Regions from separate parts of the Homo sapiens genome. Here region 1 is linked to region 2. The links come from fine-mapping of genetic effects on gene expression. Tissue or cell type: prefrontal cortex. Region 2 holds a variant in brackets; the other region holds the start of a gene. All regions are shown on one strand. Distances are from middle to middle.

The links. PIP is the estimated chance that this variant, and not a neighbour inherited with it, causes the effect.
Region 1: it holds the start of SEPTIN2, and the variant in region 2 is fine-mapped to the expression of SEPTIN2 in prefrontal cortex (GTEx, PIP 0.98).

What each region holds. Positions count from the first base shown.
Region 1 is chr2:241,312,006-241,320,105 of GRCh38, reverse strand. It overlaps SEPTIN2 (septin 2), which reads right to left and starts at 4,181. Exons shown (of 13, transcript NM_004404.5): 1 at 4,124-4,181. HDLBP (high density lipoprotein binding protein) reads left to right here and starts at 4,434. Exons shown (of 28, transcript NM_005336.6): 1 at 4,434-4,536. RefSeq lists enhancers at 2,984-3,708, 3,659-3,718, 3,709-4,433, 4,359-4,458, 4,479-4,528 and 1 more and silencers at 3,909-4,258, 4,799-5,178.
Region 2 is chr2:241,199,060-241,207,159 of GRCh38, reverse strand. ANO7 (anoctamin 7) reads right to left here. Exons shown (of 25, transcript NM_001370694.2): 5 at 7,737-7,844; 6 at 6,935-7,071; 7 at 5,805-5,862; 8 at 4,856-4,966; 9 at 3,662-3,827; 10 at 2,205-2,295. Among named protein-coding and RNA genes, the nearest start is that of ANO7, 14 kb to the right of the region's middle. The variant C/T (reference allele first, on the strand shown) is at 3,016.

The DNA.
Region 1 (8,100 bases), 110 kb before region 2:
AACGCCATAGGCCAATCTCACTCACAAATATAAATGCAAAAATCCTGAATACAATATTTGCTAGCAATTAGATTCCAGGAATGTATCAAAAGCATCTACCAATATTAATCCAACAACACAGTATAGGGGAAAAAAAATCATGCATTAATAGATGCTGATGAGGCATATGAAATTCAGCAACCAATCATAATGAAAACAGTAAGAAAACTGCTGGCAGAGTGTGGTGGCTCACGCCTGTAATACCAGCACTTTGGGAAGCTGAGGCAGGAGGAGCGCTTGAGCTCAGGAGTTCAAGACCAGTCTGGACAACATGGTGAAACACTGTCTCTACAAAAAATACAAAAAAATTAGCTGGGTGTGGTGGCGGGCACCCGTAATCCCAGCTAAGTGGGAGACTGAGGTGGGAGGATCCCTTGAGCCCAGGAGGTGAAGGCTGTAGTGAGCCGAGATGGTGCTGCTGCACTCCAGCCTGGGTGACAGAGTGAGACTGTCTCAAAAAAAGAAAAAAAGGAAAACTGCTTAAATCTAATTCAGGATATTTCTGAAAACCAAAGGCAAATACTGTTTTCTAAACAATAGAAAATTAAATCTATTTAAATTACAACCGATAATTCGGCAGGAATGCCCTTCCATAATTATTTTTAAGCACTTACATGAAAACTTTTACATGAAGACCTATACAAAAAGCAAACAAAACCCCCATGTGCTATCCATTATCCAGCTTCAACAATTAGCAACTGAAGGTCAATAATGTTTCATCTATTTCCACAATCATCAATGCCACTGCCTGGATGATTATGAAGCAAATACGAGATGTAACATTTCATTTATATTCCACTACACATATCTAAAAATAAGGGCTCCTAAAAATGACAAACCATTACACATAGCTAGTTCTTTAATGCAATCAAATATCCAATCAGTATTCATATTCTCTATTCTCTCATTTTTTTCATGTGAATCAAGATCCAAGTAAGATCCAGATATTGCAATTTCACCATGATTATTTAATACTACCTTGGTGAGTTTACTGAATATAATGAAACAAGAAAATCAAAAGAAAACACTTTTTTGCTGATTGGACTGAATACACAGAAAATACAAATACTCGGCTGGGTGCGGTAGCTCATGCCTGTAATCCCAGCATTTTGGGAGGCCAAGACGGGCATATCACGAGGTCAAAAGATTGAGACCATCCTGGCCAACATGGTGAAACCCCGTCTCTACCAAAAATACAAAAATTAGCCAGGTGTGGTGGCGCCTGCCTGTAATCCCAGCTACCCAGGAGGCTGAGGCAGAATCACTTGAACCCGGGAGGTGGAGGGTGCAGTGAGCTGAGATCGCACCACTGCACTCCAGCCTGGCAACAGAGCAAGACTTTGTCTCAAAAAAAAAAAAAAAAAGAAAATACAAATACTCTGGTTAAAAAAATTCTAGAATACGATAATTTAGTAAGGTAGCTAAATATAAGATCTCAAGTAAGTCAAGTACCAGCAACAAATATCAAGGAATAGAAATGGGGGCACATCATTTACAACAGAATTTTTAAAAATCCAAACAAGTAGGGACCAAACTAGAAAACAGGTCCTACATAAATCAAATCATTTTTATTTTCCCCAAATGAGTATGTTATTTAGTCCATTTCTAACTGGAATCCCTAACGGTGTGGCTTTTTTCTTAAAGGATTGGATAAAATGAGCTTTAAGTTCACATGGAAAGATTAAATGCCAATGCTGAGGATAGAAAAGAGCAGGCACTTACCTTATCACCTATTACATGTATCTGATTTCAAACCCACACAGTGCAACATAGAAATACCATAGAGCACCTCTCCCGCACCTCCACAGAACCCCTCAGCCTCACTGAACCCTGTGCACACATATGGGAAAATGGAGAAACTATTTGTCTTAAACTGACATTTCAACTTTGCTTTGACTTTACCAAGTTTCTCCTGCCATCTTTTTTTTTTCCTGTTTTTTTTTTTCTGAAACATAACTTGGATCCACAATGTTTTCTCTCATAATTTATTAACTAATGTGAAATGGAAGGTGAAAGAGGAATTATGAACCTCTGAAGCACATGGTTTTCAGTGAGAAAGCCTTGATCCAGCAACACAAACTGCCAAGCACTGTGATTAACTTAAACACTGGGTGCAAATTGGACCAAAAATGTAGTCAAATGAAAATTTTGTTCCTTCAGATCGTGTTTATTCCACATGCCAGAAGTTGTTTAAAGTTCTTTAATCTTGACCCACAGCTTATTTCTTCCACAGAATAACCCCAATACACATAAAAAACCAATTTTCGCAAAACAAAAGATAGAAGATGAACAACATCTGGCGATGTAGAACCCGGAAGGTCCATGATCTTATTCAAAGCATCTGGATTCTTTGGATTCGGGGAAGGTCCACGTTCAGTATACCCACATAACACTCCTAACAGGGACTGGGGCAGGGATAAGTGGCATGTATGACTACTAACAGAACAGACAATACAAATGGCCTTACCTCACCTCTGCTGCCAAATGAGTTTTGGTGTCCCCATTCCTCCAGACAAAAAAAAAAAAAAAAATACCCACAACTTCTTCTTTTACAGCAGTTTCTGTATGCTGGTATTGGGGATAAAAAGGGGCCCTGAATTACATTTATGAATGATAGAGGGAAACCCTGGCCCCTTTCCCTAGGTCACCTTGCTAGTTTAAGAGCCAGTCAGAATGTAAATCTGATCTAATTAAAACGCTCTTGTTCTTTATTCCTGGCTGTGGCACTGGTGAGAGAAATCAAGGTGGAAGTTGAGGAAAAAAAATCAGGACAACCTTTATAGCTAATGAGATCAATGCCAAGATTATACATAACAGTACACATCATGAGTTAGGATGCTGGGTGGTGCAAAGAACCCATTAATGGGAGCTATCAAAAATCACTGAAAACAATGAGGCTCAAATCAGAAGTATCAAGAATCAGCTTTCATGACCCCTACACCATGATGTTTTTCTTTATGACGGCAGAACTATTTTGAAACATTAAATATATCGGCAGGCACTGTGATTCAAAAAGTATTTGAGAACCTACTAGGTGCTAGACACCAACCGAGGCAATGAGTATGGGTGACAACATGTGCCCTGCCCTCACAGCACCAATAGTCCACTGGACAAATACCATCTGGAACATCAGGTAAACACCTAAGCCTGTCTGGAGGAAATCTAATTTGGGCGGAATCCCACAAGCACAGACTAGGTAAGGAGAAGGCAGTTAAGGTGGGAAGTAGCCAGATTTAAGAGTTTGGGCAATGGCCAAAGGTGCAGAAGTTTGAACTACAAGAAGTTCAGTGTAGTTGGTTCGTGTGTTTCCGTGGAGAGAGGACAAGGTCTGGTGGCACTGACAAGAATTAGACCGAAAAGGTAAAAAAGCAAGCCAGGTTTGTCTGGGCCAGTAGGCCAGGTCACAGTTGGGACTCCACTGAGACCACGGAAGCCACAGGTTTGCTCCTCATCCCCGGGCCAACTCGGCGGCCTCCAACCCTATACCCTACCCCCTGCTGCCTGTCCGTGCCTCGCTGGTGCAGACCTTCGTCGCCTCTCCTCGCCGAAGGTACCCGCAGACAGGGCCTAGTCGCTCTCCCCTCGCTTATCCACGGCATCCAGCCGATGGGCTTGGAGGTTTGGGGGCTGGCCAGTCCTCCACGCCTCAGGGAGGAAATGGCACCGTTAGAAAGACAAGATGGCCACACAAGCTCTAAGTGTTTGTCGGGCCTAAACCTGTATCCTCCCTCCAAGCACCAAACCTCCCGACCTCGACCGCACTCGACGCCCCGAGGCCCAGCACCGACGACAGTGCAGAGGAATTCCCGCAGGGTCAACAAGGGGTCACCGGAATCCCCACTCCCGCGCCCGGGCCTGCCCGTGTCGGAGCCACTGTCGCCGGCACTAGGACCGCCCGGGACGGGGGAGCCCACGATAAGTGCCGAAGAGCCTGGGCTCGGCCGCCCCTCCCCCACACCGCCCCGCCGGCACCCCAGAGCCAGCCGACCACCGCCCGAGAGTATGGGACGAGCGGCGCGTCCCCCGCAGCTCCTCGGGAGGGCCGGCCCACAACTTGTGCGGGGTACACCGGCGAGACACTCACCCGCCAAACAGCCCGAGAACAGGCGCCGACCGACCGCGCCGCGGACCCGCCCAGCGCTCGCGGTCCGCTCACAGCCCGCCCCAGCCCGCCCCGCCCCGCCCAGCGCGCAGGCGGATTGCGTCACCGCGTCACCCCGCCCCTTTGCCAACTGCTTCCTGGCTCAGTGCGACCTGGCCTTCTTCCCCTCCCCCATGCGGCCGGCTTCCGAGTGCGCAAGCCCAGAGTCGTCCGCGTTGTCCGCCTCTGCGCAAGCGCCGTGCTCCTCCCACGGCAGTTGGCCATATAGAGGCTGGGGGTGGGGGGGGAGGTCAAGCGTAGCCTCTTCTCCTTTACCAAGATGGCGGCTTGTCCCTGTTTCGCCACAGTTCCTACCTTATGAGCTCGGTTTTCTTATGCTTATAAGAGTGGAACAGGTAATGAGAATCTTCGCCTTGCGGTGGGTAACTGGAGTGGGGGGAAGGCCGTTTGTTAGAAGGAGACAAGTGCCCACTGAGGAGGAGAGAGGCGGTCGCGGGAGGGCAGGTGGTGGCGGGAGTGCGGAGCGATCACGGGGAGGGGGAGCCTTCGCCTCTCCTCCTGTCCTCCAAGAAGATGGCGGCAGCACCGAGCTGGGGCGCCGAGTACGACTGGGCGGGGGACGGCGAGCGGCCGCGCGAAACTCGTCTAGCCCACCACCGCCGCCGTCTCGATGATCGGGGGGCCTCTCTGGGATTGGCTGCGCGCACGTCACGTGGGGCCGACGGGCCCTGCGCAGACCATCGAGTCGGGCGTCCCTCCCCGGGGACGTGGCCTTCCTGTGCCCGGGCTGGGGCCCGCCGCCCCGCGGGGGAGGGCGGAGCTGGCGCGGCCCCTAGCTTTCTCCTTCTGGTGTGGGGCCCGAGGTGAGACCTGGGGAGTGCTCCGCGAGCCCACGAGCAGCGACGTGGCTCGGGGACGGGAGGGTGCCGTGCCTGGCTGCGGCCTGAGCGGGATGGGCGCGGGCGGCTCCGGCCCGCGGGTTGTGCCCCGGCCCGGGGTGTCCTTTCCTCCCTCCCGCGTGGCCTGGAGGCACTGCAACTGTTCGAGACTCACGTCAAGGCTTGGCGCAAATACCCCTCGTTCAGGAAGCCTTCCTAGGTTTCCCCCGCTTAGAGGAAACACTTCCTGAGTTCCTAATGGCTGACCCGCATGGTGTTGGGAACCTGAGCCTTTCTGACACCGTGGCATGTTGCTAGGGTATTTTTGTGCGTAGCTCCTTTGAAAAGTGGTTAGGTGCTCAAGGCTAGCTGCTACATATCCTCTCCATTCGACTTAAAAAATGAGAGGGTCAGACTTGACATGGTGTTTGGACGCCATGTAAAATCGAAGGAAGTCGACTTGGGCTTTGCTTATTAAACAGTGCCTATTATGGTGAAATTAAACGGCTGAAGGAATGTGGATGAGTCGTAATCTTAAGGAACATGACGATTTGCCCCTCAGTTTTGCGTTTTATGTCCTCAGATTCATAGCTACCTATACCCTAAGCCCTCAATCAATGACTTCACATTTATTTGGTGTCTGCTTAAGGATAGTCACTTTCTTAGCAGCTAACTTCCTTAAAACCCTATTAAGATAGGTTAAGTCACAATTAGGGTTTTGTCTAAGGCTCCTGGTAGCGGCACATTGCATAATAAGCTTAATGTTCATTTAGGGAAGCAAATCTGGGATGCTGAAACACTGGATGAAACGTAGTGCTTAGGTTTATATTTTGATTTTTTGACATGTAAAAGTATCCCTAGGCTAAATTCATTAAGTACACATGATATTAGGATGCTTGGCAACAGTATTTAAAAATAGTTGAAAAGGTGTTTGGGTAAGAATTATTTCCATCATTTGGATTACCGAATCTCTGAGTCTGAAACATCAACCTATCAAGTTTTAGACTTGGGGAAAATGGAGCTGGAGCCTACTGCCTCAAGTCTCAGGGACAGCGTTTGAAACCCCATTAAATAATTCATCATGAGGATTAAACTTTCCTGTTACTGCTATTAGTTTTGCTTGGTGCCAAGCACTGTTGAAGGGACTTAGCTCATCTTATCAGGAGTCAAATTAACGTCATTCGGGTAAAAGTGCATTGAGTGTAAGGAGAGCACCTCAAAGATATAGTTGACCTATATCACGTCCCTCAGCGCCACTAGGCTTACTTGAATCCCTGTTACAGTGTCCTCTCCAGTGGGCAAAGCTAACTTCTCAGTGGCCTGGTGGGAGAATTTCTTCTTGAGTAAATACGTATTTTTCCAGGTTTTGTTGTTTTGGCCTTCCAGTTGTCTGACTTCAGCCTCATGACCTCACTTCTTCATTTCAATTCAAAAAAATATTTGCTGGAAATTGCTGTGTAGGGTTAAGGGTTCTGCAGATACAAAGGTTGAGAGGATATAGTCTTTTCGACCAGGTGCAGTGGCTCACGCTTGTAATCCCAGCACTTTGGGAGGTCGAGGCGGGTGGACACTTGAGGTCAGGAGTTCGAGACCAGCCTGACCAACATGGTGAAACCCTGTCTCTACTAAAAATACAAAAATTAGCCTGGCATGGTGGCGCGCGCCTGTAATCCCAGCTGCTCAAGAGGCTGAGGCATGAGAATCGCTTGAACCCAGGAGGCGGAGGTTGCAGTGAGCCGAGATTGTAGCACTGCACTCTAGCCTGGGCGACAGAGTGAGACTGTGTCTCAAAAAGCCAACAAAAAAAGAGGATATAGACTTTTCTTTTCCTCAGGCAGCTTGTGGTCTAGTGTGAGAGACTTATTTGTAGAAGAGTAATTACATTATGGTGTGATAAGTGCAATGATAGAAATATGTGTAAGGTGTGGACATAGGAAATAGGCAGTGGTTACCTGTTGGAAAGTCTTCCTACAGAATGTGGTCCTTGAACTGCGGTTTAAAAGACGAGTAAGAGTTTTTCCAGGTGGTGCTGAGTGGACAGGAAGACTAGGAAAGAGGAGGCTGACATTTATAGTTGGTGGCATACGTGAGCAACAGGTTTAGAATTTGGTATACTCTTGCCATGGCAAATGGTAGAGGGCTTGGCTCAGACTGTGTACTGAAGGACTTGATGCCCTTCAGTGAGTTTTATCTAAGATACTCTGACCTGAACAGAATTTGAGATGATTGTGCCGGGTCCACTGGGATATCTTACGATCCTTCGTGGGTCATATGGATTCTCCATTAGTGCGTCCCAGCTGAAACTTACAGAAAGGGCTTAAGCAGAGAACATGCTTTTTGGAGTACAAAGTGATATTTTTATTTGGTATGGCCCGTTCATTGTGCATCCATCCCATAGGCAAATGGTGATACGAAAGCTTTTCCCTCTTTTGGTAAGAAGTAACCAAGTTCTGAAAGAAGCATATCATGCGGCTTTCCCAATTGCCAAGTTATGATGACACAAAGTCCAAAATGCGTGTAAAGGTTTTTGACCAAGTAGAAAAGCAGAGAACCCCAACCAGTATAATGTGTCAGAATGCTTTTTCTCTTCAATTGTAAAAGCACCACAACGTTCAACATCTGGAAACCAAGAAAATAATGAAAAGAACCTTTTTTCATGTGTATAATATTTTAAAACTTGGTTACATGTTATTTTTTGGTATTTCTAAAGTCAGAGACATTTTAGAAGTGAAATCCCTAGTAGGCTATTGTTTTACCAAGCACACTGAAGTTCCTCGAATACCGTTGAAGATGAGCTAGACATTTGTTCTGAGACGTGTCTGGACATCATGTGGTTGTGTTAGTCATCTTGTTGATACTTGTTGTTAATTTGGTAAGAATACATTGACTACATACTCTCCCTTACTACTTTTTATTAGCATTCATATTAATCTTATTTCAAATCAAGGTTACAGCTTCATGTCATTTGTAGAGTCAGATAATCCTAGAAAGGCTTGTAAGAAAGAAGTGCCAACATCCTTCCCCTAATCATGTTTCCTCCCCTGCAGAGTATCTACTTCAGCCTTAGTAGATTTCCTTGAT
Region 2 (8,100 bases):
GCACTCCTGTCCACCTGTCAGCCTGGGAGCACTCCTGTCCACCTGTCAGACTGGGAGCACTCCTGTCTACCTGTGTCAGCCTGGGAGCACTCCTGTCCACCTGTCAGCCTGGGAGCACTCCTGTCCACCTGTGTCAGCCTGGGAGCACTCCTGCCCACCTGTGTCAGGCTGGGAGCATTCCTGCCCACCTGTCAGCCTGGGAGCACTCCTGTCCACCTGTCAGACTGGGAGCACTCCTGTCCACTTGTGTCAACCTGGGAGCACTCCTGTCCACCTGTCAGCCTTGGAGCACTCCTGTCCACCTGTGTCAGGCTGGGAGCACTCCTGCCCACCTGTGTCAGGCTGGGAGCACTCCTGTCCACCTGTGTCAGCCTGGGAGCACTCCTGTCCACCTGTCAGGCTGGGAGCACTCCTGTCCACCTATGTCAGCCTGGGAGCACTCCTGTCCACCTGTGTCAGCCTGGTAGCACTCCTGCCCACCTGTGTCTGGCTGGGAGCACTCCTGCCCACCTGTCAGCCTGGGAGCACTCCTGTCCACCTGTCAGCCTGGGAGCACTCCTGTCCACCTGTCAGACTGGGAGCACTCCTGTCCACCTGTCAGCCTGGGAGCACTCCTGTCCACTTGTCAGACTGGGAACACTCCTGTCCACCTGTGTCAGCCTTGGAGCACTCCTGTCCACCTGTGTCAGGCTGGGAGCACTCCTGCCCACCTGTGTCAGGCTGGGAGCACTCCTGTCCACCTGTGTCAGCCTGGGAGCACTCCTGTCCACCTGTCAGACTGGGAGCACTCCTGACCACCTGTGTCAGCCTGGGAGCACTCCTGTCCACCTGTCAGCCTGGGAGCACTCCTGTCCACCTGTCAGACTGGGAGCACTCCTGTCTACCTGTGTCAGCCTGGGAGCACTCCTGTCCACCTGTCAGCCTGGGAGCACTCCTGTCCACCTGTGTCAGCCTGGGAGCACTCCTGCCCACCTGTGTCAGGCTGGGAGCATTCCTGCCCAGCTGTCAGCCTGGGAGCACTCCTGTCCACCTGTCAGACTGGGAGCACTCCTGTCCACTTGTGTCAACCTGGGAGCACTCCTGTCCACCTGTCAGCCTTGGAGCACTCCTGTCCACCTGTGTCAGGCTGGGAGCACTCCTGCCCACCTGTGTCAGGCTGGGAGCACTCCTGTCCACCTGTGTCAGCCTGGGAGCACTCCTGTCCACCTGTCAGGCTGGGAGCACTCCTGTCCACCTATGTCAGCCTGGGAGCACTCCTGTCCACCTGTGTCAGCCTGGTAGCACTCCTGCCCACCTGTGTCAGGCTGGGAGCACTCCTGCCCACCTGTCAGCCTGGGAGCACTCCTGTCCACCTGTCAGACTGGGAGCACTCCTGTCCACCTGTCAGACTGGGAGCACTCCTGTCCACCTGTCAGCCTGGGAGCACTCCTGTCCACTTGTCAGACTGGGAACACTCCTGTCCACCTGTGTCAGCCTTGGAGCACTCCTGTCCACCTGTGTCAGGCTGGGAGCACTCCTGCCCACCTGTGTCAGGCTGGGAGCACTCCTGTCCACCTGTGTCAGCCTGGGAGCACTCCTGTCCACCTGTCAGACTGGGAGCACTCCTGTCCACCTGTGTCAGCCTTGGAGCACTCCTGTCCACCTGTCAGACTGGGAGCACTCCTGTCCACCTGTGTCAGCCTTGGAGCACTCTTATCCACCTGTGTCAGCCTGAGAGCACACCTGTCTACCTGTTTCAGCCTGAGAGCAGTCCTAGCTACCTGTCAGCCTGGGAGCACTCCTGTCCACCTATCAGCCTGGGAGCACTCCTGACCACCTGTCAGCCTGGGAGCACTCCTATCCACCGGTGCCAGCCTGGGAGCACTCCTGACTACCTGTCAGCCTGGGAGCGCCCCGTCTGCCTGTCAGTCTGGGAGTGCTCCTGACCACCTGTCAGTTTGGGAGCACTCCTGTCCACCTGTCAGCCTGGGAGCACTCCTGTCCACCTGTCAGCCTGGGAGCACTCCTGTCCACCTGCCAGCCTTTCAGCCATGTCCACAAGGCCCTCTGTGACACTCCTGAAGACAGGCATGTGCTCACCTCACACCTCAATCACCTCAAGCACCAGCTGTCTGCACAGGACCTAGCACCTAGGGGTCCCCCCGCCCCACACCCATCTGGAGGCCCAGCACCAGGCCCCAGAGCTGCGGAGAGGGAACACTCACGTGGGTATGTCTGAGAACACCAGGAAGCAGCCCACCAGGAACACCAGTGTGCCCACCACTGCCGCTGGCAGGAGCCAGCCTGTGTAAAACCCTGTAGAGAGGATGGCAGGGGTCCACCATCAGGAACCCAGGCTTGGGGGCCCCAGGTAGGGGTCTGCACAGCCATGCTTGTCCCCTAGGGACCACCCTCAGCCCAGCTTGGGGGCTGGGGCCCTATGTGAGGAGGCCAAGAGGTACACAGCTCTCCCTGGCAGCTCTGGCACGGCCCACCCTCCTGGGCCTCTGCCCTAGACTCTGGACACCCCTACCACATTGACCCCAACACCAGTGCTGCTGGGGCTCCAGCCCACCAGGCTCTCCACCTCTGGATGCCTTCTCCTCAGCCAGCTCACTCCAACCAACCTGCCCGGGACGGACAGAGAAGTCCCTCTACATCCTGCCCACCACAGAGCTGTGGGCCCACCCGTGTTCCAGCCCCAGGGAAACCACGAGTCATTCCGGGTACCTCCCTCCCCACCACCCAACCCCCACCCTGGCCCCTGCCTCATCTGACCACAGCCGCAATCCCTCAGTTACCCCAGGCCCTCAGCATGTACCCCCACTGCCTCCCATAGGGCTAGTCCAGTCCCAGGCCTGGTGTCCTGTCTCCTGCCTGACTCTCTGCTGGCCAAAGTGACTGCTGTGAAACGCAAGTCTGCCTGGAGCCCAGATCCAGCCCTGGCCCTGCTTGCCCCCAGAAGCCCCCAGCCTGGCCGTGCTGTCCCAGGGTTGCTGCTCCAGGTCCTGAGATGGCCGGGTGAGTCCTGGCACA[C/T]AGGAGCTGTCCCTCTGCCCCGATGCTGTGCCCCGGCTGCCCTTCCATGCCTGCCGGCCCCGCCCGCTGCCCTGGCTGGCTCTATTGTCTGGGTCCACGGTGGGGCTGTGTGTGCGGATGAGAAAGGGCTTTGGAAGTTCTGGGGCACAGAATGAAGGGGTTGGGTCTGACCCAGGATGGGGAAGGGAGGGTGCCAAGAGCTGAGTGGGGTGAGGGCAGCCAGGACCCAGGAGGAACAGCTCTGGGGTTGCCTGGGGCAGATGGCCTGCTTGGAGGAGATGAGAGGCTTGGCCTGGACCCAGGCAGGGGCGACCTCCCTAGGATGGAAGTTCCTGGGGTTGCCCCAGGGCCTCATGGGCCAGTGACATTCGGGGAGGGAGTCAGGAGAGACCCCCACCAGCAGAAGCGGCTCTCAGCACTGTTACTGGAGCATTAGGAGGCCAGGGCCCGGCATCGTCATGGCGCCCAGTTAGAGTGAGTGGGCTTGAGGGGAGCCAGGAGGGCAGCCCGGTCGAGCCAAGAGCTGCGCCCACCGTCCAGGCCCCCACGCACGCTGCCCTCCAGGGGTACGGACTGGCAAATTGTTACAACCTGACACCAAGCTGGGGGGGCCCAGGTGGTCTGGGGGGCAGCGGGGGGGACTCACCGAGCCAGGCGAAGTAGAGGGCCACCTTCTCCCCGAAGTACCTGCGCACGTGGTCCAGGGGCTGGTACTTGTTCCACTTGCCCCAGCGCGCCCAGTGCTGGAAAAGGACTTGGCGCTGGTTGAGGCGTGGAGCCTGCGGGCCCTCTGGGGGCGTCTTGAAGGGGCCCTGGGGGCGAGCGGCCTGTGGGTGGGAGGCTCCCCCAGCTGACCCCACTGGGCACTGTTGTAGGTGCAGGGGCTTCAGTGTGGGACATGGGCAGACAGGCCTGGGAGTCTGGGATTGCTCCATGAAGAAAAAATAGAGTAATGTGGAGGGGTGGGTACAGGGTGGTCCGGGAGGACCTCTCTGAGGAGGGGACATATGTGGTGAGGCCCCTCTGACTCCTGGACTTCGAGGGTTCAGGGCGGGGAAGGGCCTGGAGAGGCCACCCTGAGAGAAGCCAGTGGCGGTGGTCCAGGGTCCAGCACCTTCTCTGGGTTGGAGAGTCCCCAGGCTCGTGTCCTGTGCTGTGCATTCTGGGCCCTGGCTGGCGGGAGGAGCCACCCCAGCAAGGTGGGACACCTGGCATTTCCACACCCACTTTTTCATTTAACCCTCATGACGGCGTTGGGGCAGGACTGGACCCCTGGCCATGCAGCAGTGGGCTCAGGCCTGACCAGGCCCCAGATGCCCTGGCTGCCTGCAAGGCCCCTCCCCTGCTCGGCCAAGGGGGAAGGCTTGGGCGGGTGGGGGAATAAATGGCCTTCTGCTCCCCACAGTGGCTGTTTTCTCAGGGATGATGGTAACGCTGATAGGAACAGGTGCAGCGGCAGCTGCCCTGGTCAGTGCCCGCTTTGGCATTGCCTCAGTTTACCCAGCTTCTGGAGGGGGATAGGAGACCTCACTGTCTTTCCCAGCAAGAGACGCTACCCAGAGAGACAGAGCCATAGCATCTAGAGCCCAGGGACCGGCCTGTTCCCGTGTTGGGCACCGCAGTGTGGGCTGCAGTCCCCGCAGAGCCGGACCTGAGGCCCCGGACAGGCCACGGGATGGCCTGATCACATCGCCGCATGTGTGTGCATTTAGTGTTCTGACTCCTGGGTGGCCACGCCGGCTGACCATGCCTGCCCCACACCCGCCTCCCTGGGGGCCAACAGGACCCAAGGGGACTCATCTCCCATACCCAGGCTGGAGCCCCCAGCCCCCGAGCTCACGTCATGCAGGGGGAAGGCGGCACTGAGGACACCCTCTGCCAGCAGCTGGTGGATCCCAAGCAGGTTTTTCTTCTCGTGGCCATACGGGGTCTTGGCCAGGATCTCAAACAGCTGCAGGGGATGTGGAGGATGGCGCAGGTCACTTGTCACGTGATAGCAGAACAGGGAAGTCCTAGCTAGCCTGTCTTTAGGCCAAGGCCATGGACGGCCTCCCTCAGCCTTCTGGTGACAATAGCGATCTGATGGAAAGGCTTGGGACTTTGTGTCACCACCGCACATGCACATGCAGGACGCCCCTGTGCCAGGGTAGTGCTCATTCTCCCACTGTGCAGGCTCAGAGTCCTTGACCAGAGCCACACGGCATGTGGGAGTCGAGTCTGCACCTGAAGCTGGGCCCCTGCCTGGCCGTGCGCAGCCCACTCTGGACCTGCACCCTGGGTGACGGTGAACACTGCAGCCTGGCAGCTGTGTCCAGGGTGTGCCCTGCCCCCTACCTGGGCAGCCACGTGACTGTGTGCCCTGTGGTGGTCAGCAGGGCCTCTCTTGGGTAGGCCTCAGGAACAGGCCTCCTGCCGGGTGCCTTGGGCCTGCCCCGCCTGGGGCCACCCTTCCTCCGACGCTGCAGGGCAGGTCTGCTCCCAGCCGGCAGGACCCACCCTGCCTGGGGCTAGTCTCGGCTGTCCCACATGTCCATAGATCCAATATCTATTTTGAGCCCTGGGGTCCCGGAGGGGAACTGGGCCCTTCCCCACCCCTTCCCAATCCCAGGTCATGGCCTGCCCTGTGTAGCGAGGTGAGGTCAGCCTCTAAAGTTTCCAAAGCCTCCGGGCTCCAGGCCTCGGCCCTCTGGTCTCAAGCAGGCCTTTCTGCATCCATGGAGGCTGGGGGCTGGCAGGATCCTCAGAGCCAGGTCAGGGTTTGGGGCCCGCGGCAGGGAACCCCCACTCACAATTTGGTGCCTCTTGGTGCTTGTGAAGAAGGTGTCCTGGTTGTCACTCCCGAGGAAGCTGTGGGCATGTGAACAGTGCAGAAGGTTTGGAGGAAGCTGTGGGCATGTGAACGGTGCAGAAGGTTTGGAGGAAGCTGCGGGCATGTGAACGGTGCAGAAGGTTTGGGGCCCGGGTGCTGGCGCGCACGCAGAAGCACAGGCCTGCGGACACAGCCCTCGCCCCAGGAGAAGCAGCTGGCTCCCCGGCAGGTCAGCAGCTCCCGATTATGCCTTTTCACATCCCCAGGAACAGGAGGCCACAGCAGGCCCCCAGATACCCAGAACCCCTCACCACACACAGGGTGGGGGGAAGCAAACTGTGGTTGGGCACAGGGCAGGGCGGTGTAGAGAGGGCCAGGCTGGCCAGGGAGCCCCATCCCGTGTGCCGCCCTGAAGCTCCGTCATGGGGCCGAGGGTGCTCGTGGGCAGTGCGGACAGTGACTGGGTAGGGGCCCTCCCTGGGAAACCAGAATCTTGGGAAGCCATAGGTGGGGCAACACGGAGTGAGGCTGAATTTCCCACCAGCCCCAAAAGGAGGCATCCCGTGTGGCAGAAAGGCCGCCTTCAGCACTGGTTCCCCGACAGTGGTCCCTGCCACTTCTGGACTCCCCTAGTCTGTAGGCCTGGTGCCATAGTGCAACTGGCTTTGTCCAGTAGTAATGTGTGTGGACGACACACGTGTCGTTTCCAGGAGGGAGCCAGCATGGGCCAAACGTGTCCCTGTATTCTACCTCCACAGTTGGGGACGCTGTGACGAGACAGAGCCTCCATCGCCCGGGCCCTGAGAGACCGTGGTGAGCAGGTACCGCGCCGCCCCACCACACGTGTGCCTGAGCAGGAACTAGACCTCGCGTGTCCAGCCACTGGGCCTTGGGGGGGTTATCTGTCCTGCAGCACAACCGCCCCAGCCCGGCTGACGCAGCGGCATTTGGAAATGCAGACACGCGATAAGCGTGCGCACCTGGCCTCAGATTCCCTGCCGAAAACTCCAGGTGAGGAGAGTCCTGGGGAAGCACCAAGTTCCGCTCACTCATTCACCGACTCCCACTCACTCCTGTTCTTTCCTCCGACTGGCAGGGCCCCTGCCTTACCGTGGCAGCTTGTTCACTCTGAACCGGCAGGAGTAGTACTCGGGGGGTACGTCTGGCACAACCTCCAGCAGGACGTTGGGGATGCCCAGCCATGCCAGCAGGCCGGCCGACCAGTTGGAGGCCTGGTTGGGTAACTCCTGGAAGGAAACGTCAGTGGCTCCTCCCACTCCCGGGAGGAGGGCAAATGCCCCAGGTGGGAGTGGAGGTTGTGCAAGTTTGCAAATTGGGCAATGGGCGAAGGGGCTCCAGCAGAGGGAAGGAGCGTGGTAGACCCTGTGAGGGCCCAGGTGAGCCCCTTCCCCTCTCAGGGCCTCAGGCTCTGAGGCTGCTCAGCTTGTCAATTTGTAGCCCAGAGACCCTCAAGTGGAAAAGGGGTGGGAACTGGTAAGTAGCGTGTCTCCCACCCGCACGCAGTGAGGGTCAGGCCAGCCAGTGCGGTGGGAGGCGGACCCACGTCCAGGCCCATCTTCCTGAGGTCACCTGGAGGCAGCCTTCTCCACCCCATGTTCATAGGCAGGGCCCTCAGCAGGTGGCCTGGCGGGGGTCTGGGCCTGGAGGGGCCAGCTCAGTGCACACGCACTGTTCACCCGACCCCACCTCCCGGGAGCCCACTGTGGGGGATGCCACCACCTGCCCTGTTTGCCCAGTGAGGTTTCTTGGGGCCTGGTGTCGGGGTGGGTAGGAGGAGCCCCTGAGGCCTCTGAGCAGGGAGCCCTCCTGAGGCTGTCGGCACTGGCAGCTGAACGCAGTGTGTGGGGACCGGGACCTCCAGGCCCACCCTGTCCCCATGCCTCCCACGTACCTGCAAGGGCAGCTTCAGGCGCAGGTCTTCGGCGTAGTAGCAGAGCACAGCCCAGGAGGCGCTGAGGAGGGCGTAGTGCACTGTGGTGTTCCCGTCCTGGACGTCCTGCTGTAGGCACCCAGGGCTCCGTGAGAGCCTGAGGGTGCATGTGTGCACGTATGCACATGTGTGTGTCCATTCGCACTCTTAGGAAAAGACTGGCATTTCTGTAGCCGTGGTAACAGCTGACTTTGAATCTCCTATTTGATACATGACACCTACTCCCATGGATACGCCTCTGAAAGCCAACCGGGCCTCGACAGCCCCGTTTGGGAGTCGGCCCCAGCAACAGATTTGCTGCAGACAGCATGCTGTTGGGACCGGC